Linked DNA regions of Homo sapiens: all the other regions are linked to region 3. Evidence: fine-mapped expression QTL. A gene starts in region 3. Each other region holds a variant in brackets. All regions are shown on one strand. Distances are from middle to middle. Region 1 holds the start of LINC02035 (long intergenic non-protein coding RNA 2035). Region 2 overlaps PARP14 (poly(ADP-ribose) polymerase family member 14). Region 3 holds the start of SLC49A4 (solute carrier family 49 member 4). Region 4 holds the start of LOC124906363 (small nucleolar RNA U13). Region 5 overlaps SEMA5B (semaphorin 5B).

What was found. PIP is the estimated chance that this variant, and not a neighbour inherited with it, causes the effect.
Region 1: its variant is fine-mapped to the expression of SLC49A4 in whole blood (INTERVAL, PIP above 0.99).
Region 2: its variant is fine-mapped to the expression of SLC49A4 in whole blood (INTERVAL, PIP above 0.99).
Region 4: its variant is fine-mapped to the expression of SLC49A4 in whole blood (INTERVAL, PIP above 0.99).
Region 5: its variant is fine-mapped to the expression of SLC49A4 in whole blood (TOPMed, PIP above 0.99).

The regions. Positions count from the first base shown.
Region 1 is chr3:122,884,500-122,890,814 of GRCh38, reverse strand. LINC02035 (long intergenic non-protein coding RNA 2035) reads right to left here and starts at 4,302. Exons shown (of 1, transcript NR_024618.1): 1 at 1-4,302. RefSeq lists an enhancer at 306-395. The variant C/TC (reference allele first, on the strand shown) is at 3,237.
Region 2 is chr3:122,701,197-122,707,511 of GRCh38, reverse strand. PARP14 (poly(ADP-ribose) polymerase family member 14) reads right to left here. Exons shown (of 17, transcript NM_017554.3): 6 at 5,877-6,315; 7 at 3,534-3,770; 8 at 2,764-2,985. Among named protein-coding and RNA genes, the nearest start is that of PARP14, 24 kb to the right of the region's middle. RefSeq lists an enhancer at 5,922-6,315. The variant G/T (reference allele first, on the strand shown) is at 2,422.
Region 3 is chr3:122,791,401-122,797,715 of GRCh38, reverse strand. It overlaps SLC49A4 (solute carrier family 49 member 4), which reads right to left and starts at 2,647. Exons shown (of 9, transcript NM_032839.3): 1 at 2,181-2,647. The coding sequence starts at 2,523. It overlaps HSPBAP1 (HSPB1 associated protein 1), which reads left to right and starts at 3,885. Exons shown (of 8, transcript NM_024610.6): 1 at 3,885-4,099. The coding sequence starts at 4,036. RefSeq lists a silencer at 2,321-2,810.
Region 4 is chr3:122,747,397-122,753,711 of GRCh38, reverse strand. It overlaps HSPBAP1 (HSPB1 associated protein 1), which reads left to right. Exons shown (of 8, transcript NM_024610.6): 6 at 1,038-1,121. It overlaps LOC124906363 (small nucleolar RNA U13), which reads right to left and starts at 3,340; the gene lies at 3,237-3,340. The variant T/A (reference allele first, on the strand shown) is at 2,647.
Region 5 is chr3:122,905,874-122,912,188 of GRCh38, reverse strand. It overlaps SEMA5B (semaphorin 5B), which reads left to right. Exons shown (of 23, transcript NM_001031702.4): 19 at 1-17; 20 at 120-269; 21 at 654-698; 22 at 1,144-1,349; 23 at 1,888-3,107. The coding sequence ends at 2,046. Among named protein-coding and RNA genes, the nearest start is that of LINC02035, 23 kb to the right of the region's middle. The variant C/A (reference allele first, on the strand shown) is at 3,107.

The DNA of each region.
Region 1 (6,315 bases), 93 kb before region 3:
TGGTATGAAAAGTAATTACTCTGGCAGAATGCATGAAACACAATAAAGTAGGAATAGAAGCATGCCTTCAATCAGAGAACATTTCTTTAGAGGGGTGACTGTGAAAGTTAAAGACTTTTGAAGAAAACACAGCTCTTCCCAGGCTGCAGTGGATGTCTAGATTCACACTGCGTTCTCAGAGCACAGGAACCTCCACTATGCCAGACGGGGCATCTGTAAGGCCAGCTTCCCCAGATGGCTGGTTCTACCTTCTAGAGTTTCCACAAGGCTTGGAGTCAGCTGCTCACATTTAAGAGAAGGAAGGAAGTGTGAGATGTGAGGCTGCTTCCCCACCTCCACCTCCACAACTCTTCATGCTGGGGTCCTTTGCCCTGACTTGTTCTGCCTGTTTCCCCTGTCACTCTGTTTCTTGACCCCTCCCTCCCTCACACCCTCATTCTTTGAAAGCAAGAACTTCTAGTGCAAAGGGGAGTGGCTCTGGAACTGATGACAGAGGGAGGTTGTAGAATCTCTATCCCTCGAGAGCTGAAAAGGCAGCTAGCCAGACCCTCTGCAGGCAGGATGTGCTTGGAGGCGGGAGGCTGGGCCAGATGACTTCGTGAGAATGAGCCAGCTTCAGAGTTCTGCTTTTCAGAACCTGCTTCCACCACAACTCCATGCCTCCAAGCCTCCTCCTGTACTTTGGCTTGGCACACATATTAACAAATACGTCTACAGGTCTGGCTTCTATTTCAATACTCTTCCACTGCGGTCTCACAGATCTCCTTACATGGTTCCTGTCTCTCCCTTGGTAGGAGGCTCTTTTGGCCTAATCCCATGCCTTAATGAATGAATGCTGGCAGATCTGAAATCTTTGAAAGCTTGTTAGCTTTCCCTAAAAACCTTTTCACTTATTTTCAAGCCATCAAAACAGATTTCTCTGCCTTTCCCTTCAAAGGCTGTCCAGCGGCATTTTTTTAATTCTAAGAAGGTCACACATAACTATATATTGATTAGGGACAGCATGGATTTTTAATGGCCCAAGGAAACAGGATTTAGAACATATTTTCCCAAGAAAGTAAGATCCCGTACAGGAATCAAGACAGCTGTACAGATGAGCTACAAAGCTTCCAACAGCCCTTTTGGGGGTGTTGCTGGCTTTGAGTTAGGTTTTATGAATGGACTCACTGGAATGCAAATCTGAGGGCCAGGAGGCTGATTTGTTTGCTTCTGCACCCTCAGTGCCTAGCCCAGTGGCCAGCATGAAGTGGGAGCCCAAAACATGCTGGTGAATTATTAAATTATTAGCTACAGATTCCTCAATCCTGGTTCTTTTTTAAAAAAATCTTAATACGATCTGCTTTTATGATAAAATCCATGCCTGACTTTAGAGTGTTCATTATGTTCAGATTGTATAACAAAGTAGAAAAGATCATAGTCTGCTTTAAGATGAGAGAAACAGTTTTCCTAAGAAAAATTAAAGCTTTTAAAAAAAACATGAATGAAACTTCAGGACCTAGATAACCAAGAATTTACTGGTAAAGGAATACTGACAAAAGAGTGAAAAGGTAAGGGAATCAGCAGATGGTTCAATAGAGTAACCTTTTCCCAATTAGATGGAAGGACAATTACAGGCAACAGAATATAGCACGGAGCTTCTGTGCCTAGGTGGTCTATATTAAACTTGAGTAAAAAAAGAACAAATACAGGGACTTCTCTATTCTGAGATAGAAAAGGGTCAAACATTAGGACTAAGGTATCAATTGATTTCTTTTTCCTGAAAAGGTCAAGTGCAATTGACAAAAGAGGAGGAGGGAGGCCCAAGGTAGGGATTCTTTGGGACATGGGGCAAGGATCCTGGAGCCAAAACCCAAGGGACAGCGGAGGTATGGAGGAGAGGGATGGCTTTACTGGGGATACCTGTATTACTTACTACAATGATTTCTCAGCAATAACTCATTGATCAGGAAGAGTGAGTGCAATGCGAATTAGTGAATTCAGGGAAGGACTAAGAACCACCACCTTCAACACACACACTGAACTCTACTGAGCAGGCCCTATTCTTCCTATGGCAGGTAAGATGGGATCGACTCCCTCTCATGACTTCTTCCAGGCACTTTCTGAGTCACAGACCTAAACAGAAACAGGTAGTTATGTGTGTAGGCCAAGGAAGTGATTTTGTTTGGGACTTGTGGATGCAGTGTATTAGGATGGAGGCGGGATTTTCTTAATGCTTAATTTTCACAAGCCTCCAAAATGACATATTTCTGGTGGGGAGGGAAGTAAATTCGGAACTCGGGGCATTTGTAGTAAATGAAATAATTGGCAGGAACTAAAACCTGCCCTTTTTAGCATTCTTTGGGTTTCTGCAAAGGCTCAGGGGGCTGGGACTTCACTAGCAATACATCAAGTGTGATTAGGTTTACTCACACGTATAAACTGAAGGGTTTCTGCAGTCTCCAGCCCCCAAAGTAGCCCTGCTCTATGTGGCTACCTGATATCCCAAATTCTACCATTAGAAAGCCCCCTTTTGGTATTTAGCCTTTGTTCTTGTTAGTATTCAAATTCCCCTTAGAAAGGAGACCCACAAAGCCTTATGAGTATAAGCATCTTAGCATGTATGCATTTGTTAAATTTTGTCTTAAGAGAAGGCTGGGGTACCAACAACATTCCCAATTTCCCATAGGAGTAATAACCAATTCCTCAGCCATGGAATGATGGTAGGGTTGGGATTCCTCATGCAAAAATTAATTCTGTGCCTCCAGACAGATCCAGATCTTACTCATGAAAAGAATATCAGTGGGACAGAATGTCTTTTCCTCAAAATCAGTTATGGTTTATGATTTGAGAACAATATATGGGCTCCTGTTATGCATAATTATTTGGGAAATTGTCACTAGCTCTTTGTAATTGTTAGTTCAGGAGTGTGTTTTTTAAAAAAAAACCTTCTGACTGGGCATGGTGGCTCATGCCTGGAATCCCGGTACTTTGGGAAGCCGGCAGGAGGATCGCTTGAGGCCAGGAGTTCGAGAATGGCCTGGCCAACATGGCAAAACCCCATCTCTACTAAAAATACAAAAATTAGCTGGGTATGGTGGCGCATGTCTGTAGTCCCAGCTACTCGGGAGGATGAGGCACGAGAATCCCTTGAACCCGGGAGGCGGAGGTTGCAGTGAGCCAAGATCACACCACTGCACTCCAGCCTGGGAAACAGAGCAAGACTCTGTCTCAAAACTATCTCAAAAAAAAAAAAAAAA[C/TC]TTCATTTTTCTGATTATCTTTCACTGCCATGTAATTGTACATATATAAATTACTCTGCATACAGAATGAATAGTATACATGGATGAAGGAACGAATAGATATAACAGTCTGAAAGTTTCCCTAATGCTGGCACCTGTAACACATCACTAACAGGGCCTTGTAGAAGTTCCTTATTGGTTTGAGAAGATAATGTATAAACTGGGAGTACTGGTGGAAAAGTATTGCACTCATGTTTTCTACTTTTTGGTTGTGTGTGACCAAGGGGTATAGATCAGAGAACTGTAAAACTTTTCAGCAAAAAGAAACATCTTCTCTGACCCTCCTATTTCAGAAGTGAGGAAGCCAAAGTTCAAAGAGAACAGATGACTTGCCCAAAGCCCCATGTCTTCAGCCATGCAGAAGACAGACGCCCAGACTTCCTGACACTGAGGTTGGTCTTCTGGTTCACTTCTCTCTCTCAGAGCTATTAATATTATGCTCACATTATAGTCACGAGGAAGTCTTGTTGGCCGGACATGGGGGCTCACGCCTTTAATCCCAACTCTTTGGGAAGCTGAGGTGGGAGGATTGCTTAAGTCCAGGAGTTCAAGACCAGCTTGGGGGAACATAGTGAGACCCCTTCTCCATAAAAAATAAAAAATTAGCCAGGGGTGGTGGCATGCGCTTGTAGTCTTAGCTACGCAGGAGGCTGAGGCAGGAAGATCACTTGAGCCCAGTAGTCTGAGGATACAGTGAGCTATGATCATGCCACTGCACTCCAGCCTGGATGACAGAGACTGTCTCAAAACAAACAAACAAACAAAAAAACCCTTGTTTACTAACACTTGAGTACAGATCATTCCTTGACATGCTGAAACTTAGCTCTTATTCTGTAAAATATCTGCACAGTTTACTGGAAGAATCTGACCATGTGGAGATGGCATCATTGCAAAGCAACTTACAATTCTTTGATGCCTTAACTAAAGATGTAAGTTCAAGGATTGGCTTTACTACCTGACCTAACAGTTTTGATTTCTACAAGTGCAAACCCATGCTGCCTCATGATGAATCCAATCAAACCAAAGGACTCGTATCTCGTTTGATCTGATTCTGGTGAGCAAATGCAGTACCCCGACCTGGCTCCCAGTATGCTATCTCAACATCAGATGACAGATTTTTCTCTTATTGCATTTGATACATTTAATAAACCCTGTGTTTCATATATAAAGTCCTTTGGGAAAATAAACAGCACCTGCAGCTTATCTCCTCCCACAGACACTGAAAAAGCAATTTCTTCTTATTGAATGTGGATGCAGCATAAGATTTCATATGTTCACGTACAGGGCTCACATGAGGGGGGCTACCGCACAAATGGAAACACCAAGGTGCTGGGCACCTCTCCAGCTTTACAGACTGCACATGCTTTGGTCATGTTCATATTTAAATAAGAATCAACTGGTATTTCTGAATTAGAAGAAATCTAAGGGAACATTTTTGCTCACTCCCTCATTTTAGAGATGTTGCTAAAGGAGAAATGAAGTGACTTGCTCAAGGTCAAATAGCTGAAGTCACCAGGCCAGGGTTAAGAGCCAGACCCGTGGGCTCCTACACCAGTGCTCTTTTTCTCTGTCCTCTCTAGTAGGGTCCATGAAGAATCTGCATGCCCGGCTCTCTCCTCTCCACCGCTGGCAACTCGTAAAATCTGGGTGTCACACAGCTCGCTCCCAAGCATTGTCAGAAATAAGAAGACACCATCAGAAAGGGGAAAGCTGGATGGGCAAGAAGACAGGAAAGGAAAAAGTGACCAAATGAAGCTGAGCTTCTGGCCTGCTACAGTTCATCATTTCTACTGACAGCTTGAAAATTAGGAAAGACACAGAAGTTGACCAGGAAACAATAAGAATTATCAGAATCTCCATTAGCTATTTTTTCAAAAAACGAAATTGCACAAGCCAGGCTGGGCAACATGGTGAAACCCCATCTCTACGAAAAATATAAAAAATTAGCTGGCATGGTGGTATACACCTGTAGTCCCAGCTACTTGGGGGGCTGAGGCTGGAGGCTTGCTTGAGCCTGGAAGATTGAGGCTGCAGTGGGCTGAGATCACACCAGGGCACTCAAGCCTGAATGACAAAGTGAGACCCTGTCTAAAAAAAAAAAAAAAAATTGCACAAGATTATTCTTTTGGCTTCTGTTTTCTATAATATTGTGTGCCTCTGCAGAGACAGGGAAGCCAAGAAAGTCCTGTGGAGGAAATCTATATGGATTTCATAGGTCGGTTACTCACTTTCTTTTCTCACAGTACAGGGAGCTTAGTTGATGGTGTTAAGAACAGAAATTGTATTTCCAGTAAGAAAACACAATAGTGCATATTGGAACTCAACTCAATAATGCATATTGGAACTCACTTTTGAACTTTAGAATATGATAAAGCTTGATGGTACATAAGCAGGTCTGTGAAACACCTACATTAACCACAATATGCTACATCTGACAGATTCATCTGGGAGAGAAATAAGGATCTCAGAAACTTCTGCTTCTGCCCATAAAGTTTATACCAATATGGTCCAAGAAAGAGATCCCTAGGTGACTCGATTTTAAATGCCCCCCGAGTTTTTATACATAGATATGTAAATGCATACACAAGTTTCTTCTGAAAGAATGAATGATGATACCCTCTGGAGAGAATGGATTAAACAGCATGTTTGTATGGAGGTAGACTTTACTTTCTATTCCTGTACTATTTTATAATAGTTATACACTCATGTATTTCTCATGTAATTTTCAAAACTCTAAAAGAAATGAAAAAAATTACTTAAAAGAATTACTTATGGCTAACACATTGATCATTTAGGGATTGAATGCTGGTCTAGGAGCCAAGTGATCTGCTAAAACCTGGCTGTGTCATTTAACCTAAAAGGTTCTCTACTGATTTGTAAAATGAGGTGGCTGAATTAGATCATTTCTTTGATTCTATGATCCTTCTGGGTAAATGAGAAAGCCAATTAGAATTAGATGAAGCCTAAATTAAATAGTGCTTTAAAAGAAGTATCATTTTCTAACATTAAGGTAAACTGACAGTTTCTCCAAGTTATCCTT
Region 2 (6,315 bases), 90 kb after region 3:
TGTGAGCCACTGTGCCCAGCCTCAAAGAAGATTTAGTGAAATAGAAAATAAAAGCGAAGGATATTAAATAAAATAATTTATAATCACAATCCTTTATTTATTTATTTATTTATTTATTTATTTATTTATTTGAGATGGAGTCTCATTCTGTCACCCAGGCTGGAGTGTAGTGGCACAATCTTGGTTCATTGCAAACTCCGCCTCCCAGGTTCAAGTGATTCTCCTGCTTCAGCCTACTTGGGAGGTAATTTTTGTATTTTTAGTAGAGACGGGGTTTCACCATGTTAGCCAGGCTGTTCTCCTGACCTCAGGTGATCTGCCTGCCTTGGCTGCCCAAGGTGCTGGGATTACAGGCATGAGCCACCGCTCCGAGCCAATCCCACTTTTAAAAGTACATATGTAAAAAAAAGCAGGCTGGAATAAAATCCAACTAAAGAATTTATGCATTTTGCATTGTTCAAAGTTTCTACAATGAACATGAATTACCATAATGGTCAGTCAAAGCAAATAACTTGCCAATTGTAAAAACTACAATGTTAAGAGAATGACCATCACAAGGTCCCAAACACTTCCGTTTTTAATTTCCTATTTGTACCAAAAGAGGAGGGGCTGAGGAGTCATGATTTTTGGAGCAAGTAGCTGGTGTATGTATTCTAGTGTTAATAAACCTGTGAATTTCATTTTTTTTTTTTTTGCCTGTTGGTGACCCTCCATAATCATCATTTTCTTCCTCCTTGTAAACAAGCAACAGATAATTTTGTTGGAAAAAAAACAAGTAACATCTTGGCTAAAGATAGATGCAATAATGGGAGAAGGAACCAGAGAGAGGGTAGAGCAAAGATCTCAGACTCACAGGCTTCTAGGAGCCAGGTAGGTAAGGCACATGTGTAAAGGTGGTCTGATTTGACTATGGAGAACTAGAGAACACCTGCCACTCAGCCATGGAAAACTTCCTGTCCCAAGCAGGAAGCCATGTTTAATGTGCCAGAAGTTTTGAAGTTTTAGGTTGTAGTGAATATCTAGAGTTTTATGTAAAATTTTTGATTTTTAAATGTTAGCAACTGATTGAAATTTTTTTTTAATAATCTAAATAAAGCACATCTAGAGGCCATGTTCAAATCACAGGACTGCTGCTTTGCATCCTCTGTGACAGTCTCCATCTATAAACATCTCGATAAGCTTTGCTGATTTTTTTGTGCAAATGTAACCAAAGTTTAACTGTCTTTAAAAGTCTAAAGAGAAAAAGTGTAACAGACACATACAGAGAATTTCAAATGGTACTAAAGGCATCTGTATAGACTAATTCTTTTTACAGAGTATTTGAAAAATACTCAGTCTTCAGGAAAGAAAATGAATGCTGAGGTTGCATGAAAAAGAGTGATATTTGAAGGTTCAGGTCTGTGTCACAGGACTCATGCTGTATTCAATCACCCATGCATTCAAAAACAGCACTTCATGCCTCTCATTTAGTTCATTTTGTGTATATAAATCTTAGCTCCAAAGTAATTGTGATTTATAGGAGGGAAAGTATGTGCTATTCCTATTCGTCCTGTTCCACGATCCACATCACCTTGCACAATGCAAGTCATAGGGAAATTATTTTAAAAGCTTCTGTTGCACAGAAGAGTAACTAATTATACGGGACAAGTAAATGGACCACATATTTTACTCAGGTGGTTTGGCTGCCTGATCAGAATTCAGGTCAGATTTACTTGCTTCCAAAGAACTTATAGGTAGTATCTAGCATCACAGAAAAATGAAGCATTACCTAAAAATTCAGATGGTCCAATGATCCACAGGTATCTCTTGGGTTGCTGATCTTAATCTGTTTGATCAATTTTTGCAGTACCTTGGGAGCTTTTCAAACACTGAATGTCATCTACTTTATTTGATTAAGTAAAGACTCGGAGTGCAGGGATAATGGCTTAAAAGCCTGTTGTGCTGCCATAATGCTGAGTCCAGTGGCTCTCCCACAGCTGATGTGAGCTGAATCATGAACTCATGATTGATGATAGTTCTGGTGTTTCTGGTCCCAACTCTCCTATTTACATGGGAATGTGCTAATCCATTCTAACCACACCTTCTGACATCTTCCTATTGATAAGGCCAGACTGTGCTTTTATACTATGTATTAAAATTTCTATGTCCATATGGAGGGAAATCCTATAGTCAACTCCATTGCAATATGTGGGCCTTATTTGGATTCTGATTCAAACACAAAGCTGTAAAAACAAAACGTTTATGAGATAGTCAGAAATTTGAGAATTGATTTGATAATTGGTTAAAGGAATTATTGTCCATTTATTTTAGGTGTGATACAATATTGTGGTTATGTTACTTTTTTAAAAAGAATTGTTATTGTTTAAAATAAATGTTGAATTGTTTATGGATAAAATGATATGTCTGAGATTTGCTTCAAAA[G/T]AATATAGAAGGAAGGGAAATAGATGAAGATAGAGATGAAACATATTGGCCATAGGTTGATAACTGTTGAAGTTCAGTGATAGGTACAAGGGACTGCATTATACTATTATGTCTACTTTTGGATATGTTCAAAATTTTCCTGAATAGGAAGTTAAATTTTTTCTACATCTGTAACTTTTCTTAAAATTTGTCATGCTACAACTACAACTACAAGTATAAACTACCTTCTTACTTTCCTGAATGGGGAAATGAATGAAAAAAGTATCCTGTTAGACCAAAAAGACATTTGAAAAAACACTAGGTCTCAGTTGCCAAAATAATCAGAAATTAGTGGCACTGTACCTGAATATTTTCATGATCACTCGGGTGCAGCAGAAAGTGAACCTCTTGTAAAGTTTTCAGCTGATTCTTGCTACTAAATTTGAACACCTCTGAAATGATTAATTCAGCGAATATGTTTTTAGGAAATCCCAAGTTTCCTGTTCCTATTGCTGGAAATGCAATTGATTTTAAGGACAAGCTCTCAGTGATCTCCATACATTCTCTGATTATGTCTTCCATTATCTGAAACGCACAAAGCACATCCTTATACATCTTGTCTAGAAATGGGAGTTAGAACAAAAAGGACAAGAATTTAGCAACTTTGTGAACTTGAATACTCCTTTTTGCTGTCAACACTGATTAAGGGCAATCAGAAGAGGAAAGAAAAATACAGGAGAAGGCAAGGAAAAGGAAAAGAGAATGCGAGAGACTTAAACACATTCACAATGAAGGAAAGAAGCAAAGCAACTACTGTTCTTTTCCTTCATTCTCTTCCATTCTTCACACCCTCCTCTGGCTTTCTTCACTAAGCAAGCAATAATATTATCTTCAGTAACCCTTCCCTGAGCTCCAATAATTATTGAGCACAATAATCCATTTATAGTATTAACTAGTCCTCAGGAGAAGTCAGCTACAGCTGAAAGAAATGGCCACATGATGGAATCTGCCAAAAGAGTGATTATTATGGAAGAGAAACAGACAAGGCCCAATCTATGTCCAATTAATATGCTACTAAAAGGAGAACCCAAAGGGCTACCCAACTTCATGGAGAATTCAAAACCAGGCCCAACCTTGAGTGAAGATGTGCTACCATTTCTCCACTCCGGAGCTACCACGTGAAGCACATAGCGACAGTCCAGATTCCAGCTGCTGGTTTTGAGCACTGTGCCCATGCTGACAGCCACCCCTTGTCCAACTGTGTCCAATTCCTCCTGGAGCTCTGGTCCAGCTTTTTCCAAGAGGGACTTAGAAAGAGGCCCTCTACTAAGCACGAGATCCAAGGGAACGGAGTTGACAACAACATCGGTCTTAAAGACAAAACCAAAAATTTGTTTCAAATTTTAACAAAAAGCATTCATCAATGATTACTATATTTGAGGCACTGGGCTTGGCACAATTGGAGACAACTAAGATGACTACGGTTTCAGTGATTGAAATATCAACATAAGACAAAGTGTGACTAAATACTTATTGAAGTGACACTTAGGAAAAAAAGAGAGCAGTCAAAAAGTAATCTATGAATGGTATGGCATCACTGAAGGAGTCCAGAGAAAGCTGTTTCAGTAACTAGTGAAGATACCATGGGCAATGTGGGGTTTGAGAAATGGGAAGAATTTCAGCAGGCAGAGCAAGACAGGGAGCAGCATGAACATAGGCATGGTGGGTTGTGAGCTGTGAACAGATTAATTTGATCTGAGAGAGCTTCTGCAGCAAAATGGTATGCTCCAGGCTAGAAATGTTACACTGGGGGTAAACTAGGGGGCCCACCTCGAGTGCCAAGACATCTGGACTCCCTGACAGAAAGGGAGCAGCCCCGGAAGCTTTTTCATCAGTGAATGTGAGCAGATTAATCGGGCTAGATTAGAGAGGTCAAGAGAACAGAGGAGAGGGAATGTAACCAAGTGATTTTCAAAGCTGCCCTGCCTGGGTCACTAAGGAGTAATGCAGAGCAGTTATTACAGCCATGGAAGCTAAGCATCTATGGGAGTGAAAGGAAAGCAAACTATGACTGTTTTTTGTTTTTTGTTTTTTTTTTTTGTTTTTTTTTTTTTTTTTAAGAGAGAGGGTCTTGCTCTGTCCACCCAGGCTGGAGGGCAGTGGCATGATCATAGTTCACTGCAGCCTCAAACTCCTAGGGTTCAAGTGATCCTCCCACCTCAGCATTCCGAGTAGTAAGGACTACAGGTATGAGCCACCATGCCTAGCTGGGAAAGAATGTCTTGATATTTGGTGTCAAAAGAGACAAGGAATGAAATTCATTCCCATAACTGATGCTTGGTCCAAAGAGTTTTTATTTAATTTTTTAAAATGAGACACAACATTATTTTTAACATTTTGAAAGAGTGCAATGGTTAAGAGCCTGAACAAATTCCAATCCTGGCTCTACCATTTGCTAGTTGGGGGATGTGGGCAAATTACCTAACCCCTTTAAGTCTCACTCCCTCATCTGTAAAGTGAGAATAATAATAATCCTAGAATCTGCCGCATGGCAGTGAATGAGAACATGCATGTCAAAAACAGCACAGTGCTGGCTGGACATGATGGCTCACGCCTCTAATCCCAGCACTTTGGGAGGCTGAAGCAGGCGGATCACCCGAGGTCAGGAGTTCAAGACCAGCCTGGCCAACATGGTGAAACCCCATCTCTACCAAAAAAAATACAAAAATTAGCCAGGCGTGGTGGCATGCACCTGTAGTCCCAGCTACTCGGGAGGCTGAGGTGGGAGAATCACTTGAACCCAGGGGGCGGAGGTTGCAGTGAGCCGAGATGGTGCCACTGCACTCCAGCCTGGATGACAGAGAGAGACCCTGCCTCAAAAAAATAAAAAGAAAAAGAAACATATTAGCCTCCCTCCAACCCCTGCCATGCCCCTGCAGCCTACAAGAATTGTCCCCACATATTGCCTGGCACCTGTAACTTCCTCAGGTCCACTTTTCACTTCCTCACTGGTGTTGGGCGCTGATGGCCCCTTAGACTCTGGCCCCAAGCTCACTCTTGCTCAGCATCATTGACAAGATTCCTGTCCTCTGCATACCCTATGCTCTGATTGTTCTGTATCTGCTGTCAGTAAATTAGGAAATTAGTCTTAGATTTACCAAAACACGGCAGGTGTAAGGTATAGAGAACTGTCTAAACGTGTGATATTATGGAGTTTTACATCTACTGGAAATCTAGCAATCTGACCTCTATACCCTTTCAGTTCTCACAAATAATTGGCCGATCTCTATTAGTAAATGATTTGGTAAGAAGCCCAATTATCTAAGGAAAATTGTTTCAAGGCAGGGGTGGAAGGCATGGGATTCTCTCCCTTGATTCTCACCTTGGTCCTTATCTTTCTTCAGCCCTCCATGAGAGAGCCACTGACTAAGTAAAGTCACAGTGCCCTGGTGGTGTTCTGTAAAAGCGACACTCACCTTAGCATTCTGCACACCCTCTTTCACCAACAGCATCTGCAGGCCTCCCGGGGACACCAGGCTTCCTTTTTCCCATGATGTTTTCCCAGGCCCCGCTGCTGCTGGTGGTAAACCTGGCGGGGCAGCTGTATCTGGCAGGGTGGCTTTAAATACAGTTTTCACAGCTTCTGCAAAGGCCTCAACAGTCTTCTCAGATACATCCACAAGGTAGATTTCTTTCAAGCAGTGTCCATCCTTCTTGAATTGGAAGTTTTCCTTGATGGCAGAAACAATGGTCTCCACGCATCGGCCTAAGGGAAAGCCAAAGACTCCAGAACTAATAGCTGGGATGGCTATGGATCGGTACTTGTATTTTTCGGCTAGACAGAGACTGAGTTGCACAGCTCTCCTTAATAGGTACACACACCTCGGGGCCTCATATCCGCTCCAGCGGGGCCCC
Region 3 (6,315 bases):
AGCCACTGAGCCCAGCAGAAACCCAGAGAAAATCAATATTTAGTTTAAAAGCAAACAACAATAACCCAAAGAAAATCTCCCTTTGGTAGGAGAAGCCCTTCTTCGGCATCTAGCACACATCCTCTGCAAAAGTATTTGCTCTAGCTGGAAGTTCTACAGCAGTCAAGACACACCCATTCAGGGCTGGGTATCTTTGTTAGAAGGTTCTTCCTTGTATTGCTTTGAGTTACATTTCTTTGTAACTTGACTCAGTCTAGTTCTTCCTCCTAGAACAACACATAAGTCGAATTCCTCTTTGACTTGATCTTCACATAGTCTATATCTTGCCTCAAGTTTCTTTTTGAAGTGTGATACACACAAGTTCCCTTCATTTTACACATCATGATTTTTATACCCTTTATCATTCTTGTCGCAGAACCTTTAAAGTTCTGCAGTTTGTCAAATGGCCTTCTCAGAATCAAGCTCAGAACTAAACACTAATGTAGAGCCTATCAAACTATTTTGCTTCTTGTTTTGGACACTATGTTTCTATGCCTAAACTGTCCTTTCTTTTTTAGCAGCTACATTATATTGTTGATCATTAAGGAATTCACAATCAACTATTCCTTAGTCTTTTTCACATGGATTCCAATGAAGGAATTCCAGTGAAGGAGGAGAGAAGGAAGTATAACTACTAACATCACCCTGCTATTCTATTCTCTTAATAACCAACTAATTTTGAGTGCTAACTACATGCCAGACAATTGCAATTCTATACCTACCTACACTTGACTTTTGCTGAGGTCTGAATGTGTTCCCCTCAAATTCATATTTTGTTTATGTATTAATTTTTCTGAGACGAGTCTTGCCCTGTTGACCAGGGCAGAGTGCAGTGGTGCCATCACAGCTCACTCCAGCTTCGACCTCCTGAGCTCAAGCAATCCTCCCACCCCAGCCTCCCAACGTGCTGGGATTACTTGAGCCACTGCGCCAGGCCTCAAATTCACATTTTGAAATCTTAACCCTCAAAATGATGGAATAAGAAGGTGCAGCCTTTGGAAGGTGATTAGGTTATGAGGGTGGAACCCATGTGAATAGGATTACTGCCCGTATAAAACAGACCTCAGAGGGATTCCCTAACCCCTTCTTCCATCTTATGTTATAGTGAAGAGACCACTGTGTAGGAAGCAGGCCCTCACCCGACACCGATTCTGCCTGAGCCTTCATCTTGGACTTCCCAGCCTCCAGAACTGTGAGAAATAAATTTCTGTGTTTATGAACTACCCAGTTTATGGTATTTTGTTATAGCAGCTCCAGTGGACTAAGACAACCTTCCAAATCTGACTAAAGAACTCATTGCAACAAAACTTATAAAAGGTTGAACAGAAACTGTACAAAGTAGCTCCCAGGCATTATTCAATTAATAAATATAAAATCTTGCACAACAGCCTCTTGAGGGTAGACTGTCACTACTAATCATTTATCCATACTTATGTGGTAAGTATGCCTTGATTCTCAGCCCTATGGCTTTTTCTTCTCAGAGAATCACACTGGCAAGTGGTAAAGTGAGATGTCCAGGGTACCATTCTAAGCAAGCATCTTCACTCATCTGCAAGCTTTAATTGAAAGTCACAAATCTCAACTGAGAAAGCCATCTAGTCACATACACACATTTTAAAGCTGCCGAGCACCACCTTCCAGAAACCAAAGTGTCAGATCTGAGTTTCCCAATAGCTCTTCCTGGGCTGGAGTCATCTATTACACAAAACGAACTCATTATTTCCTTACATATGGGCACCGTCAATCTATTTTCCGACCTTTCATCCTCAACATCCCCATATCCCTTTGAAGTCAAAGCATCAGTCATTTTTGTCAGGTGTAAAACACATACACCGCACGTGCACGGGGATGCTCTGATGTTCACAATGTGTAAAAACTTGAACGTTTAGAGATCGCTTAAATCCCTGGTGTTGCATAAAGGGCCTTGATAAAAAACATAAATATTTGCAAGGTTGCCTTTCCATATTTGTCGCTTTGGGGACGGAGGGTTCCTAAGTCAGAAATGGAATGCTAGCAACACTCTATCACCTCACACAACCCCTATGCCGGGGCCAAGGGAGGCGGCTGGCAGGCCTGGAGCGCGGGCAGGCGCCTGCTCCCGGAGGAGAGACAGCGCGGGCTGGCGCTCCGCGACCCCTCACCTCTCTTGTCCAGGAGCCACATGAACGCGAAGCAGGGCAGGAAGCCGATGGGCCCCCACAGCACGAGCAGCGCGATGTCCCAGCTGGAGAAGCCGTAGGCCTGGCGCGCCGAGTTCTGGATGGGACCCCAGGTGTTCCAGACCAGGCCCTGAACGAACGCCAGCAGCGAGAAGAGCAGCAGCACCAGCCAGCGGCGCCCGTATACCCGCCCGGGACCCGGGACCGCCGCGGGCAGCGCCGCCGCCGCCGCCTCCCGGCTTCTCCAGGAGGCCCCCAGCCCAGGCCCGAGCCCGGGCCCCAGCAGCGGCTGCCTCTCCTCTTCGCTGCTCCAGCGAGAGCCCATGGCGACGCGTCGCCCGCGAAGCCACTGCCGGGCGCAGTCCGGGTCACCGCCGACTAGCCCAGCGCAGAATAGTCCTGAGCAGCAGGAGGCGGAGGCTGCTGTGGTCGCCCTCGGCCTCCGGACCGCGCCTGGTGCGCCTGCGCGGCCCGAGCCGGGCCGGCGGGGAGGCGGGGAGGCGGGGCAGGCGGCAAGGAGGCTGGGGTCCGCCCTCCCCTCCGCGGGTGGCGAGGAAACACCGGCGAGAGGAAAGGAGCCAGGTCCCAGACGGAGGGCAGGTAGCGCTGAAAAGGCAGGGACCAGCGCGGCTGAGTCGGGGAGAGGGAAACTCCCAGAGAGGCTGTATTCGAGGAGGTTGGGCAAGGAACCCTGGGGTGTTTGGAGGAAGTGTCCAAGTTAAATCTTGTGCCTAATAAACAACTCAGTGACCTGTTAAGTGACGTCAGTTAACCTGATGCTTGCTTCTATTTTGGGCTTATTCTCATTTTTGTTGAGTTAGTAACTTCAGAAATTATAGGCGAAGGATAAAGTTTAAGCGTAGTTGGTCCCAGGGGATTATCTCATAAAAATCATTTCTTACGTGCAATAAGTACTACCTATTTTTGTTACTTTTTTGTCTTACATATCCAAAGAGGAGATTCCAAACTAGCCAATTTCATTCATATATATGTAAACTTTACCCATTTCGCCTGCCAATAGGCGAGCAATAAAGGTATGTCCAGTAAAGTTGGAAGATTTTTGCCCCAAAGATCCATCTCCAGTGATTATGATTTGACCACAGGGTAAACGAGAAGAAAGGTGGTTGTTGATCTCTTCACACAGCTGTTTGTTTATTTTGGTATACAAATTCAGAAGCCTGACAGCTGTGGATTAGTGTCCTTGAAAACCTAAAGTCAAGCAATTTGGCTTGTCTGGATCGGGAAATGAGTCACAGGGAACGCAATCACAGGATTCTTTGCCCGAGGTTCGTATTTCCCGGCAGCCACTAAAATCAGAAGGAGTCAGGTTACCACCAGAAGGGCAAGAGAGGTGTAAGAGAAGCGTGAGCTAGCCTCGCATTCCAGGCTGCCAAGAGCGGCTCGCGAAAGCTCACGGCAGAGACCCATCCCACCGCCGGAGCCCCACTAAGCGGCAAACCTTCCCCTAAAACTCCAATCCTTTAGGGTGGAGAAAAGCCGAGGTGGAAAGGAAGGATCTGACTAGAAAAGGAGAAACAGAAACGAAGCTAAGACTACAATAAAGAACGCTAAGGTCCGGGTTAGGTAAAAAGCGCCACAACTCAGACCACGTGTTTGTATTTCCACACCCGGGGTATCAAAACAAAGCTGCGTGGTCCCGCCCAGCATCCGTCACGTGACCTCCACGTGAGAGCCGGCGTTTCCGTAGGAGCCGGGCGGGAGTCGCCGGGGCTCCTTCCTGTGGTGCAGCTTCGGGTCTCGGAGTTTGGCCCCTACTCTGACCCCACCCCAGCTCCGCTCCGCCTTGGGTTCCGGCAGAACCCGCCTTGCGGTAGCCATGGCAGCAGGCTCCGAGGCGACCACTCCTGTGATCGTTGCGGCTGGGGCTGGAGGGGAGGAAGGTAGGTGCCAGGCTGAGGTCCGACCCTGAGTACAAACCCAATGCCAGTTGACTCTCGTGGCACCCCTCGTGGGGCCGTTTGCCTTAGCCCCAACCCAGGTCTCTCTGGCCTTGCATTAGACTATGAAGAAAAATCTATATTTTCTAGTGAGCGTGGCATTTCTCGAATTGTGGCATCCAGATTTTTGATCGTCGTAGGGTAGCCTACGAGTGCTGTTTCACGCATGGGGTGTTATTTTTGTTTTGTTTTGTTTTATATTTGCCCATCATTAGCTAAATAGAGGTGTTTTGAACGTTTAGAGGGGATTAAAATTAAATTTGTGAAATTGAAGGCAACCTTTGAGATTAATGGAAGTTATCTGAGACTTTTGTGAACAGGGATTATGCGCTTTTATTCTATTTCAGTGAACCCTGGTTTAGCAAGTGGGGATGAGGTTTGGAGGCCCATGAGCCTGAGATCCCTGTTATTATTTATTGAATGATTGCACCGTGCAGGGCTGTGTTCTGAATACTGTCGCAGGATCCAGAGACTTTTGAATATTTATAACAATACCTTTTCCAAAGGAGCCTAGAAAGGAAAAAGAATGACTTACTATGTGGTCACCTGAACTATTCTACCAGTAGTACACTCTGTGAGGGTTGTTAGGAGGAGGGATCTCAGTGGGGAGAACATAAATGCTTCAAGGAGCGAATAGTTTGAGGTCGGCCTTTCTTTTTCTTTTCTCTCTTTTTTTTTTTTTCTTTTTTTGAGACGGAGTCTCGCTCTGTCACCAGGCTGGAGTGCAGTGGCGCGATTTTGGCTCACTGCAACCTCCACCTCCCAGGTTCAAGCAATTCTTCTGCCTCAGCGTCCCAAGCAGCTGGGACTACAAGCGTGCCACCACGCCCAGCTAATTTTTGTATTTTTAGTAGAGACGGGGTTTCACCATGTTGGCCAGGATGGTCTCGCTCTCTTGACCTTGTGATCCGCTGAGGTGGGCCTTTCTGATTGGATGAGATGGTGACAAACTCAGGGAGTGGTGCTGGGGTTCAGGAAGTCAGGGAGCAGAAAAGGATGGATGTATTTAGGGGTCAAACAGTTTGCTGAAGGGGGAGATGCCCATTCCAAGCAGAAGAAACAAATTATAGCCTCCTACTATCTGACCACTTTCTACCAGGGAGACAATTCTTGACCTTCATCTATACCTCCATTGCATTGATCTTTCCATTTTCTATCCACTGCACCCCCTTATCCAGAATGTATGTCGTTCCTTTGAAAAATTCTCTTGTCCCTTCCTGCACTTTTTTCTGACAAAACTCTTACTCTGGATGAAGTCAACCTTTTGCCCTCTTTGTACCTGCACCCGTGGGCCTGAACTTTGCTGGAAAAAGTCCTGCACAAACTGATGACCGTATAAAGTGAAAATGGCCAAACTCTTGAATATTCAGTCAGTATGGGCTTGAGATCCCTCTGATCCTCTGTTTCTCTAGTGAGCCTGCTAACGTTCTCCAATGACAAATTCCCAAACTCTATAACCTCTCTCTGCCTCTTTCTTAATTTCAGGTAATGACTTTGCAAGTCAGGTCAATTCTGCATCTAATCTGTCTACTTTTTTCCTTTCACTATCAGACCGTACTTCAAATCATCCACATTTTCTCACCTCAACTACTACTGTATCTTCCTGACTGACTTGTGTCTCTGTTTTCTATTCTGTGCCCCTCTAATCCCTTCTCCACTCTGCAGCAAAAAGTGACTCTTCCTTATGTAAAATTCTTCAGCGAATTACATTGCCCTTAGAAGTTAGAATAAAACCCAGATTCTTAACCGTGGCCTGTAATAATCCTTGGTCTGGGCTCTGCTGATGTCTTTAGCAGGATCTCTTGTCACTCACCTCCCCTTTGGCTTTTCACATAGCTGGCTTAATCTTTAGCTTTTAAAGTATGTCACCACCTGAGACCTTACCAGATCAAACTATTTAAAACAGTCACTGTGATTTCTCTTGCACCCCCCAACCCTAGATGTTCTGGAATACAGCATCCTGCTTCTGTCATTTTACTTACTACAATCTGTAATTATTTATTATTTGTTTTTTCCATTAGATCATAAGTACCTTGAGGGCAGGACCTATGTCTGTTTCATTCTCTACCATGTGCCCAGCTGCTAGTACAATGCCAGGCACATAGTTGGCACATGCCACATGTTTGTTGAGTGGATGAATAAGGGCACTCCATGCCAAG
Region 4 (6,315 bases), 44 kb after region 3:
CTCTTTCTATTTCCCAGTCCTGCCTTGTTCACAGCAAATACCAGTAGTTTCCTAATGTGAAGCCCAAAAGCTTCACATCATTTCCATCTACTCTGCTCTTAATAGGAAATCTCATACTGAGTCTGGATAGATGCCATCCTTCTTGACTCTGCCCATTGCTTTTGTTTATTATACCTTCCTATTTATATCTTAACGTTTAATAAGTGGACCTTTGCAAGTATCTCCTGTCCTTCTCAGACTCTCTCGATACCACTATTTTAACCATCCCCCTACTTAGAATTTCTCAACAACTCCTAGTGCCTACCAGATAAAATCTAGATTCTGAAGTCCGCTGTCCCTAAACTAATTCCCCTACCTTATCTCCCATTATTCCCTCTGTGATAGTAAGACTGACCTACTTGCTATCTTCTGTAGTCCTACCTCCCTCACCTGTACCTCTTATCCTTCCTGGCATGTCCTCATTCTTTCTGTGTCTAAATTCTCTCCTAGCCCGGGTTCAAATCACACTTCTTCCATCCATGTTGCCCCTGACCTCCCTAGTTCATGCCTGTTTCACCCACCTCTGAAATTCTGAAACACCATTGTCCCCTGATTTACCACTTCTATAATGCCACCTTTCTATACTTTATCTTCTCATTGGCTAGATTTTGAGCTGTGAGAAAACAGAAGCCACGTCCTATGTGTTTTACCTATGCCCTTTCTCAGAATGCACGCAACTATTTTGTGACGGAAAGGAGGAAAAATTAGAATCTCAGAATCATGTACTAAGATTTAGGTGCAGACAAAGAAGGCCCAGGATTAAAGAGAATAGAGATGCTGGCAGTATCCTTTGTAGAACATGTGAACTTGTCAATAAAAAAGGAATAAAAGGAAAAAAGGTTTGCGGGGTTTTTTTTCTTACTTTACTTTTCTCCAGCAATATTATTGTGAATTCATTTGTATTCCTTTTTTTCCTAGCAGCCTCAATTAGGGTCTGATTCTGACATAAAAATGAAACGTCCTGTTCTTGTGCTAACCATTCTTTGTTTGGTTTTCAGGTTCTCTTTGTTCCCAGACACTGGTGGCATTACGTAGAATCCATTGATCCTGTCACTGTCAGTATAAACTCATGGATTGAACTGGTACTTTTTCGTTGTTTTTTTTTTTTTTTTAAGTAAGTGCAAATCATGCTTTTAAAAGATATATAAGGTCTGGCTGTACAACTGGGTAATTAATTTTTTTTAACCAATGCTTCAGTATTTTTTTGTTGCAGTGCACTATAACGTATGCATTCTGTCTTCTGTTAATGGATGTTTAGGTTGGAAATTGGAATTTTAGTGGTGTGCCACTCTCTTTCTTTTAAGGACACAGAATGCGCCTGATGCTGGCATGCAGGGTCCTTTCCCTTGACCAGTGTTGTTAGGAAAATTGTATTGGGCCTGGCCAGATTTGCCGATATGTGTCCCTTGTTGCCGCTCCTCTTTCACACCATCTGGGCTGGAAATACCTGCTTCTTGGTTCAGGGTCATTACTAATTGCAGAATTCTGTCTTGGCTTCTACATATTCTCAAAGCGGAGTCTTTCTTTCAGTGCTAGGTTTTTATCATTTCATTTCTGCCAGAAGCCTTTCCCTCTGATGTGTTAAGCTTAATCCTGGTTGCCTGCTCTATTTGACAATTAGAATAGCTGCTTGTTATGCTCAAGTCTGTCTCTTCAACTGGGGCCTTAATTGCAGCTGCCTCTCTTTAACCAGAGGCCCTGACTGCATCTCTGCTCTCCTTGACCTGAAGCCTGGATTGCATCTTTCTGCTCTGTTTGACAGCCGTATCCTCTCCCTAGTCTAGTTTTTCCTATCCTTTGCTAATAGGAATGGCTTTGGAATCAGTGGAACAGAAGGAATATTGTTACAGAAAGCTATGTTGTGTGGGCTTAGTGAAGAGTTGTAGCCCTTGAGGCTTAAGTGAGAGGTATGGCAGGAGATCAGTAGCGTCACAGAAATTTCGCCTATAGCATGCTGAACTGGAGTTGCAGCAGATGTCAAGGTAGAATCCATGGAGAACTTCCACTCCCAATGCCAAAGTCATATCTACAATAGCCCTGACAGGTGCTTCACCTCCCAAGGAAGTTCGCTTGTTGTTAAAGAGTAGAGCTGTCATCTTTTTAAAATATTTGAAAATACCTCCAAGTTTTTCCATAATCTTTTCTTCTTCCATGCTCAAAACCTCTTACTTTCTTTAATGGGGTGTTTTTATGGGTGATTTTTTCCTTTTTCCAGACTTTTTACCATTCTGGCCATAGACTTTGGAATCAGGCAACTTTAAGATACAGGTTACCTTTGTTAGCTGTCTAACATAGATAATTACTTAATCTCTTCAAGCCTCCATTTTCTTGTAAAATGAGGATTATAATTGAACCCACCTCAGTAGAGTAATTGGACAACACATTGTAAAAGCATCTAATATAGTGCGTGGCATATGGGAAGTGTTTAAAAAGTAGAAATTGCTATGAGGAGGAGGGAGAGCTATTATGTCAAGAATAGTTCTCTTAATATATAGTGCCTAAAACTGAATATCAGTAGGCCTTATTTGGTAGAGTATAAGATTTCTACCCCACATGATCTCGATCCTAAATATCTCCAGTGCTGCTTGTAATATTGGGTTAGTTTTT[T/A]AAGTAATCTCATCTCACTTTAGTTTCATATTCAACTTTAAAATATCTGTGATTTTTTTTCACATGATCTGCTGTCAGGCAGGTTGAATCCTATCCTGTACCTATAAAGCTGATTTTAATTCTAAATCCAGTATTTCACAGTCATCCCTGTTAATTTTCATCATATTGGTTTGGTTGAGCATTCCAGCTTGACAAGATAATTTTAAATTTGGGTCTTATCTGTCATTTTAGTGAAACTTCAAGCTGGCCTGTGCCCTTTTGATATGTCCCCGTTAATTAGACTTTGAGTGTATCCTGGCTTTCTGGCACAGGAAGATATCCCAGGATACCCTTTCTCCTTTAGTGCCCCACACTTGGAAGTCAATCATTTCTCCAGGTAGCCACAGTTCTTTTTGTAGGAAATGGCATTTAGAAACTGAGATCTCAGCTCTAAATCTGTTCATTGCTCCTGGGTGTCAGTGTTTCTAGGCTCTTTCAGTGATGTAGCTAGAATGTGAGATAGATAGATAGATTAGATAGATAGATAGATAGATAGATAGATAGATAGATATTGATGTATTTATATTTCTAATTCATGTGTTTAAAAAATATATCTAGACAGGTAATATGCTGACGTCATAACAAGGCTTAAGGGAGGCATGTCTCACACATGAGCATGACACCCAATCATCAGACTTATGAACTATAAAAGTATCTAATTCAAGTTTAACATGATAGAATTTTTTATTTGTTTCTGTATTTTTATCTCTTCTCTTAACACTGAAAATCTGGGTCCTTAAAAACAGTAACATAAGGCCGGGCACGGTGGCTTACGCCTGTAATCCCAGCACTTTGGGAGGCCGAGGTGGGTGGATCATGAGGTCAAAAGATCGAGACCATCCTGGCCAACATGGTGAAACCCTATCTCTACTAAAAATGCAAAAATTAGCTGGGCATAGTGGCACGCACCTGTAATCCCGGCTATTCGGGAGGCTGAGGCAGGAGAATCGCTTGAACCAGGGAGACAGAAGTTGCAGTGAGCCGAGATCAAGTCACTGCACTCTGGCCTGGCAACAGAGCGAGTCTCTGTCTCAAAAAAAAAAAAAAAGAAAGAAAACCAGTAACATATTTACTTGTTTGCTGTATCCAGCAATATATTTTTTAAGATATCAAATTTGGCCGGGTGCAGTGGCTCACACCTATAATCCCGGCACTTTGGGAGGCCGAGGCGGGCAGATCACATGGTCAGGAGATTGAGACCATCCTGGCCAACATGGTGAAACCCCTTCTCTACTAAAAAAATACAAAAAATTAGCCGGGCATGGTGGCGCATGCCTGTAGTTCCAGCTACTCAGGAGGCTGAGGCAGGGGAGTCACTTGAACCCAGGAGGTGGAGGTTGCAGTGAGCTGAGATCGCGCCATTGCACTCTAGCCTGGTGACAGAACAAGACTCCATCTCAAAAAAAGAAAAAGATGTCAAATTTATGTTTCCAAAATTCAAATAGTAATATTACTACTAACCATAAAGCTTGCAAGTAAAAATTAAGATTTCTTTGCAATTCTTTTTATTATTAGACTGTATCTATCACTAAGAGGGATAGATACAAAGTCCTTTATTCAGGAGTCATTGTGAAGGAATTCTTTTCATTTATGGTTATTTTACTAATTGGATATTTAGTTAAGTTCATTTGTTTCAGTTTGTTTTCAATTTTAGGATTTACCTTTTTAAAATTTTGATCTAATTTAATATTTTAAATATGTAGAACATTTAACTTGTCAAAACTATGTTAAAAGTTATACTCAGGGAAGTCTGCCTTTCATCCCTGTTCCATCCACTCCATTTTTCCCAACCTTTATAGAGATCCATTTTTATTCATTTCTGGTTTATCATTTCCAGTGTTTCTTGTAAACATATATATCTATATCTATATATAAAAGTAAGTAAATGAATAGATATATTTATATATGTAAATAAGTATATAAACAGTCTTATATGTACAAAGTGCATAAGCATATAAATATGTCTTTACTTATTTATATACTTATTCAAATATATTTTAAATTTTCTATCCTTTATTCCATAGAAAGTAATAAACTATAGTGTTCCATACCTTGCTTTTTTCAACAATAATATCTTGAATTTCACTACATAATAGTACAGAGAAATATTCATATTTTTCTTCAACCACTGTCTAGTACTTCACTGTATGGGTGCTCTACTGTTCATTAGTTCCTTTAAGGATAGATGTTTGGGTTGTTTCCAGTCTTTTGTAATTACAAATAATGCCACTGAATAACCTTGTGCATATGTTGTTTTATATTTGTTGAAGTGTGTCTTTGGGGGAGATCTTAACAATGGATTTGCCATGTCATAGGGTAAATGTATCTTTAATTTTGTTAGGTTTTGCCAAATTCAGCTTCATTGTGATTGTGCCATTTTGCATTTCCATTAGTAGTATGTGAAAGTGCTTGTTTCCTCCACAGCCTCACCAACAAAATCTGTTGTTGAACTTTATTGTTTTTGAGTCATAATTAGAAACCAAGGTCATATGACCCTTTCCAGGTCATAAAGGAATTCACCAATGTTTTGTGTTAGAATTTAGATTGTTTCATGTTTTTTGCATTTCGATCTCTTATCCATTTGGAAGTTTTTCACTAGGATATAGTATAAGTTTGAGATCTAATTTTTTTTTCTTTTTTTTTTTTTAATTGATCATTCTTGGGTGTTTCTCACAGAGGGGGATTTGGCAGGGTCATAGGACAATAGTGGAGGGAAGGTCAGCAGATAAACAAGTGAACAAAGGTCTCTGGTTTTCCTAGGCAGAGGACCCTGCGGCCTTCCGCAGTGTTTGTGTCCCTGGGTACTTGAGATTAGGGAGTGGTGATGACTCTCAACGAGCACGCTGCCTTCAAGCGTCTGTTTAACAAAGCACATCTTGCACCACCCTTAATCCATTTAACCCTGAGTGGACACAGCACATGTTTCAGAGAGCACAGGGTTGGGGGTAAAGTCACAGATCAACAGGATCCCAAGGCCGAAGAATTTTTCTTAGTACAGAACAAAATGAAAAGTTTCCCATGTCTACTTCTTTCTACACAGACACGGCAACCATCCGATTTCTCAATCTTTTCCCCACCGTTCCCCCCTTTCTATTCCACAAAACCGCCATTGTCATCATGGCCCGTTCTCAATGAGCTGTTGGGTACACCTCCCAGACGGGGTGGCGGCCGGGCACAGGGGCTCCTCACTTCCCAGTAGGGGCGGCTGGGCAGAGGCGCCCCTCACCTCCCGGACGGGGCGGCTGGCCGGGCGGGGGGCTGACCCCCCCACCTCCCTCCGGGACGGGGCGGCTGGCCGGGCAGAGGGGCTCCTCACTTCCCAGTAGGGGCGGCTGGGCAGAGGCGCCCCTCACCTCCCGGACGGGGCGGCTGGCCGGGCGGGGGGCTGACCCCCCCACCTCCCTCCCAGATGGGGCGGCTGGCCGGGCGGGGCGCTGACCCCCCACCTCCCTCCCGGACGGGGCGGCTGGCCGGGCAGGGGGCTGACCCCCACCTCCCTCCGAGACGGGGCGGCTGGCCGGGAGGGGGGCTGACCCCCCCGACCTCCCTCCCAGACAGGGCGGCTGGCCGGGCGGAGACGCTCCTCACTTCCCAGACGGTGTGGTTGCCGGGCGGAGGGGCTCCTCATTT
Region 5 (6,315 bases), 110 kb before region 3:
CACACAGGCCTGCCCAGGTATGAGGCACATCCCGCCAGGGCTGGGAAGCGACATGGAGCCCTCTGATCCCCACCAGGGGGTCCCTGGGCAGTTAACCTCATCCTACCCACAATCCCCAGAAGGCTGGTCGCCCTGGTCTGAGTGGAGTAAGTGCACTGACGACGGAGCCCAGAGCCGAAGCCGGCACTGTGAGGAGCTCCTCCCAGGGTCCAGCGCCTGTGCTGGAAACAGCAGCCAGAGCCGCCCCTGCCCCTACAGCGAGATTCCCGGTAGGTACCCCTGCCAGCACCTGCGCAGCAACCCTTCCCAGCCTGCACTCCCAACTTCCTTCTCCTTCTGAAGCTTGTGTCCTGGTGGGGAGCAGGGGGCACAGGATGAAACATGGAAGTGGGGGGAAGGAGATGCCGAAAGAAAACTCCCATATTTGCCTCCATGCACACATTTGGGGTTTGGGCCCTCCTCATCCTGTGGATGGGCTAGCCCTTCTCAGAGGTGGGGTCTGAGGAGAGAGGGAGGGGAATGAAGGCCCCCACGCCTACCTAGTCCTACGTCTGAGCGTTGACCTAGAGGTCCTCCCAGGCTTACGCCTACCCTGCAGGGCCCCCCTCCTCTCGTCTCCGCCCCTGACACCCTGTCCACTGGTCTTCCTGCAGTCATCCTGCCAGCCTCCAGCATGGAGGAGGCCACCGACTGTGCAGGTAAAAGAAACCGGACCTACCTCATGCTGCGGTCCTCCCAGCCCTCCGGCACCCCACTCCAAAGTCTGGACTCTTTCCACATCCTGCTCCAGACAGCCAAGCTTTGTTGGGGTCCCCACTGCTTTGAGATGGTGTGTAGGGTGGTCTGGGCAGTTCCCTCCATGCCCCCCCCAGCTAGGAGGCCATCATCAGTCTGTACCCAAGGAAGAGTCATCTGACTCTAGACCCTCTGGTTGCCACCTCTGACTTGAGCCACAGGGTACCTTGTGAAAGAGGTCCCCAGTGACAGCCTCCCCAGCCTCCCTGTTTCCTTTGGCTGTGGCCTCAGAGCCCTTTCCAGGATGCCTCAGAGCCTCCTGTTGCTGTTTCTGCTCCCAGGGAGGCAGGCAGGAGTCTGTCCTCTTCACAGTGGCCCTCATCTTACTACCTGCCTCTCTTCCCCTAGGGTTCAATCTCATCCACTTGGTGGCCACGGGCATCTCCTGCTTCTTGGGCTCTGGGCTCCTGACCCTAGCAGTGTACCTGTCTTGCCAGCACTGCCAGCGTCAGTCCCAGGAGTCCACACTGGTCCATCCTGCCACCCCCAACCATTTGCACTACAAGGGCGGAGGCACCCCGAAGAATGAAAAGTACACACCCATGGAATTCAAGGTGGGAGCCTTCTTTTTTTTTTTTTTTTTTGAGACGGAGTCTCACTCTGTCGCCCAGGCTGGAGTGCAGTGGTGGGATCTCGGCTCATTGCAAGCTCTGCCTCCCGGGTTCACGCCATTCTCCTGCCTCAGCCTCCCAAGTAGCTGGGACTACAGGCGCCCGCCACTACGCCCGGCTAATTTTTTGTATTTTTAGTAGAGACGGGGTTTCACCGTTTTTAGCCGGGATGGTCTCGATCTCCTGACCTCGTGATCCGCCCGCCTCGGCCTCCCAAAGTGCTGGGATTACAGGCGTGAGCCACCGCGCCCGGCCGGGAGCCTTCTTGTAGAAGCAGAGGGCAGGGTAGGAGGGCAGGGTGAAGAGTGCAGGGGTTCTGGCCCTCAGCTGGGTGGAACTGGGCAGTGGTGGTGTGAACAGAGCACTGGATCCGCAGTCTGAGTGTTCTTGCACGGCTGGCTTCTGGACTCCTTGCTCTGGCCTGTTCCCTTCCCCTGTGTGTTCCCTCACCCCTTTCTCTGGTTCCTTCTTCCACCCACAGACCCTGAACAAGAATAACTTGATCCCTGATGACAGAGCCAACTTCTACCCATTGCAGCAGACCAATGTGTACACGACTACTTACTACCCAAGCCCCCTGAACAAACACAGCTTCCGGCCCGAGGCCTCACCTGGACAACGGTGCTTCCCCAACAGCTGATACCGCCGTCCTGGGGACTTGGGCTTCTTGCCTTCATAAGGCACAGAGCAGATGGAGATGGGACAGTGGAGCCAGTTTGGTTTTCTCCCTCTGCACTAGGCCAAGAACTTGCTGCCTTGCCTGTGGGGGGTCCCATCCGGCTTCAGAGAGCTCTGGCTGGCATTGACCATGGGGGAAAGGGCTGGTTTCAGGCTGACATATGGCCGCAGGTCCAGTTCAGCCCAGGTCTCTCATGGTTATCTTCCAACCCACTGTCACGCTGACACTATGCTGCCATGCCTGGGCTGTGGACCTACTGGGCATTTGAGGAATTGGAGAATGGAGATGGCAAGAGGGCAGGCTTTTAAGTTTGGGTTGGAGACAACTTCCTGTGGCCCCCACAAGCTGAGTCTGGCCTTCTCCAGCTGGCCCCAAAAAAGGCCTTTGCTACATCCTGATTATCTCTGAAAGTAATCAATCAAGTGGCTCCAGTAGCTCTGGATTTTCTGCCAGGGCTGGGCCATTGTGGTGCTGCCCCAGTATGACATGGGACCAAGGCCAGCGCAGGTTATCCACCTCTGCCTGGAAGTCTATACTCTACCCAGGGCATCCCTCTGGTCAGAGGCAGTGAGTACTGGGAACTGGAGGCTGACCTGTGCTTAGAAGTCCTTTAATCTGGGCTGGTACAGGCCTCAGCCTTGCCCTCAATGCACGAAAGGTGGCCCAGGAGAGAGGATCAATGCCATAGGAGGCAGAAGTCTGGCCTCTGTGCCTCTATGGAGACTATCTTCCAGTTGCTGCTCAACAGAGTTGTTGGCTGAGACCTGCTTGGGAGTCTCTGCTGGCCCTTCATCTGTTCAGGAACACACACACACACACACTCACACACGCACACACAATCACAATTTGCTACAGCAACAAAAAAGACATTGGGCTGTGGCATTATTAATTAAAGATGATATCCAGTCTCCAAATGTCTCTGTGCATCTGTGCGTGGGCTCCTCTTGCATAGTCTAGGCAATCTGAGCAATGCACCAGGGTGGCAGATGGTCTCTCAAGGCGGGGGAAATGCCCCAAGTAG[C/A]CTTATCTTTAATAGATGATATCTTTCCATTTGTAGAATGGAAATACACATACAGTGTACACATACATTGTCCTACACCCTTTTTGGAAAAGATGTTGGGGATAAGCAGATTCACAAGTGGGGACATAAGGTACACCAAAGGCGACAAAACAGGCGAGAGTTCTGCCTGCTCCTTTAGCATCTCTTCAGGCAACAGCTCCAGGGTGTGAGTCCAGCGGGAGAGTGTTGATGAGAATTATTTTATGAGATATTTATACTGCTGAGTTTAATAAAATCAAATTTGAGAAACAGGCAAATCTGTGAGGTGGGAGAAGCCTAATATAGTTTTTGCTGGATTAAATAAAGATAACCTCAAAGCCTCAGCCCACCAAATCAATGCTGCCATTTTGGATGAGATTGACGGACATGTTAAATTTAGAGAGCAATTTCCTGACTTAATTGGCTGGATCAATTCTCCTAGGATTCCCAGCAGAATCTAATTGTAGGTCAGGCTGTAAAACCTGCCATCCTAGTGGTAGAGGAGGCGGAAGCTCTTGGGGAGTGGAGGGAGGAGTGCTTGAAGCTTAAAGGTTCCTGGAAGCAAGGAGGAGGAAAGAACATGCCTGAAATCTTTCCTGCTTACCTGGGACAACTGGAATGGCAGTGTCATCAGCACAGTGGAGCCCCATCCGAGAGCTCAGGAAGTATGTGAGTACTTGGGATTCCTGACTGGTTCCTCTTAGCCCCATGTGTCTCGAGCTCATGGGGGCCTACAGGGCATTTTATTTATTTATTTATTTATTTATTTATTTTTATATATTTATTTTTGAGACAGATTCTTGCTCTGTCTCCCCGATTGGAGCACAGTGGTGCAATCTCAGCTTACTGTAACCTCTGCCTCCCAGGCTGAAGCGATCCTCCTACCTCAGCCTTCTGAGTAGCTGGGACTACAGGCGTGTGCCACCATGCTTGATATTTTTTTTTTTTTTTTGAGAGGTGAGGTTTCACCATGTTGCCCAGGTTGGTCTCGAACTCCTGGACTCAAGCAATCTGTCCCCCTCAGCCTACCAAAGTGTTGGGATTATAGGCGTGAGCCACTGCACCCAGCTAGCAGGGCATTTTAGATCCTGGGGTCTCAGAGCCCCCTTGGACCAGAGGGTCATTGAAGTTTAAGAGTGTTCCAGGGCCCAGGGTGCCTGCTTCAGAAGGGCCCCTCATGGTGTGTTCAAGTGGAGGGACCAGGTAGGTCTGTAGGAAGTGGTCATGGAGACTTCCCGGGCAATGCCCACCCGATGTTGACTGCAGTGGCATCAGCAGAATGTCAATCTTTGAGTGCCAGTTCAACACACACACACACACACACACACACACACACACTGAATTCTCTTTGCAAAAATGTGGCTTTGGAGGCATGACCATTCAGAATGCATGAAGGATCCACACTGCTCGCAGATGAGCTGGCAAAGTTGGTAAGGGCTATTAAGTAAACAACCCTGGCCCAGAGGTGAGGAACCCCAGGATGTGCTCCCTGACAAGGAGGGTCTGGGGATCTCTGACAGATGTCAGGGAGCTGAGGCGTGAAGGGCAAGGGATTCTTCCTTGTCCCAGCTGGCTCAGCAGGAGTAAGGAAGATGCAGGAGTGGGTGCTCCAGGCTTTTTTGCATCCCTTTGTGTATAAATGACTTTTTGAGTGTGTATGCATTTTCTTATTAAAGTCATATGTATTCATTGCAGAAAATTTAGAGGATACAGAAAACCAAAAAGATAATCACAGTTATACTAAAAACCAAGGCAGAGACTTAGGGATTTTAAATGGTGGTATAAAGACATTTATCCCTCTTTCTCTCAGAATCACCCCCAAAACAGAATAAAAAACAAAAGTTCTGTCACTATTTTCAGTAAATCTAGGATGTATGTATAACCCCAAGTCATGATCCATGAAGACAGAAAGCAGATGGAGGAACCAGGCATCCAGTAGAATGGATGTGGGCCAAACTTAAGCATCCAAGTGATTTCAGAAAGAACCGGATACCAGAGAAACCAGGAATGAGAAAGGTGGGGTTAAGGTGGGGACTGAAAAGAGAGGGATTGGTTGTACATCTGTGTGTAAGCTTCAGCTAGACTTTCAAATTGTCTTCACTCTCCACCGTTACAGTCGTCACCACTCCGCTGTCTCCACAGGGGGCAATAAGTATGTTCCCTTAAGACAATGAACCAGAGAAACCTTGGACTTGGGGACACCAGGCCCAGAGGTGGGTGTGTGGTAAGGAGTTGTCTGGACAGACTCTGGTTGTCAGTGGGATTCAGCCATTGCCTTTCCTAAGCTAACTCCAAGACTCTGACAGCCAGGCTTTTCCTCCCCCTCCTCTTTTTCCTCCCCCTCCTCTTTTTCCTCCTCCCCTTTTTCTTCCTCCTCCTCCCCAGGCAGAAGACTAGAAGATGATCTTTTGAAGAAATGAACTAACCCTACAAATTCTGAAATAAGCTAGCTGGTCATCATGCTATATAGTCCTAGAGCAAAGTACACTCGTTTACAAACAGTACCCTGTACACAGAGCTTGCAGTTAGTTTTTAGTGCATCCACACTGCTTGCAGATGAGGTGGCATAGTAAGCAAAGGCTGTTTGGTAACCAGCCCTGGCCCAGAGGTGAGGAATCTCAGAATGTGCTCCCTCACAAGGAGGGTGGTACGAATCGGCACATAAGGATCACAGACATCAGAGGAAAAGGTCCAACATGAAAGAGACACCAAAACAAAGAAACAGATAAAGTGGAACTCAGTGAAAACAGAGACAATACAGAGAGAGCACTTCAAAGACACCATATTCTTCAGAAATGAGTGAAGATGCTATATGAAATAAATACGTGATGTAATTTTTAAAGGACATATTTAAGTTCATAGAAATTAAAAAATATGACAGCAAAAAAATTAGCTAAAGGGCTTAAAGAGACAAGAAATTTCCCAGAAAGTTGAACAAAAGACAAAGAGATAGAAAATAAGAGGGGATGCTCTGGTTTCCCTTCAGAATGAATAAATCTTTTGCCTTTTACAAGAAAAAAGAAAAGAAGAGGGAAAAGATAAGAAAACAAGAGGATCAGCCCAGGAGGTCTAACAGCTCATGAGAAAACTCAGAAGAGAAATATCAAAGAAAGAGTACAGGAAAATTTACCAGGACCAAAGAAGGAGGTCTCCAGATAAAAGGCCACATTCAGTACCTAGAACCATAGATG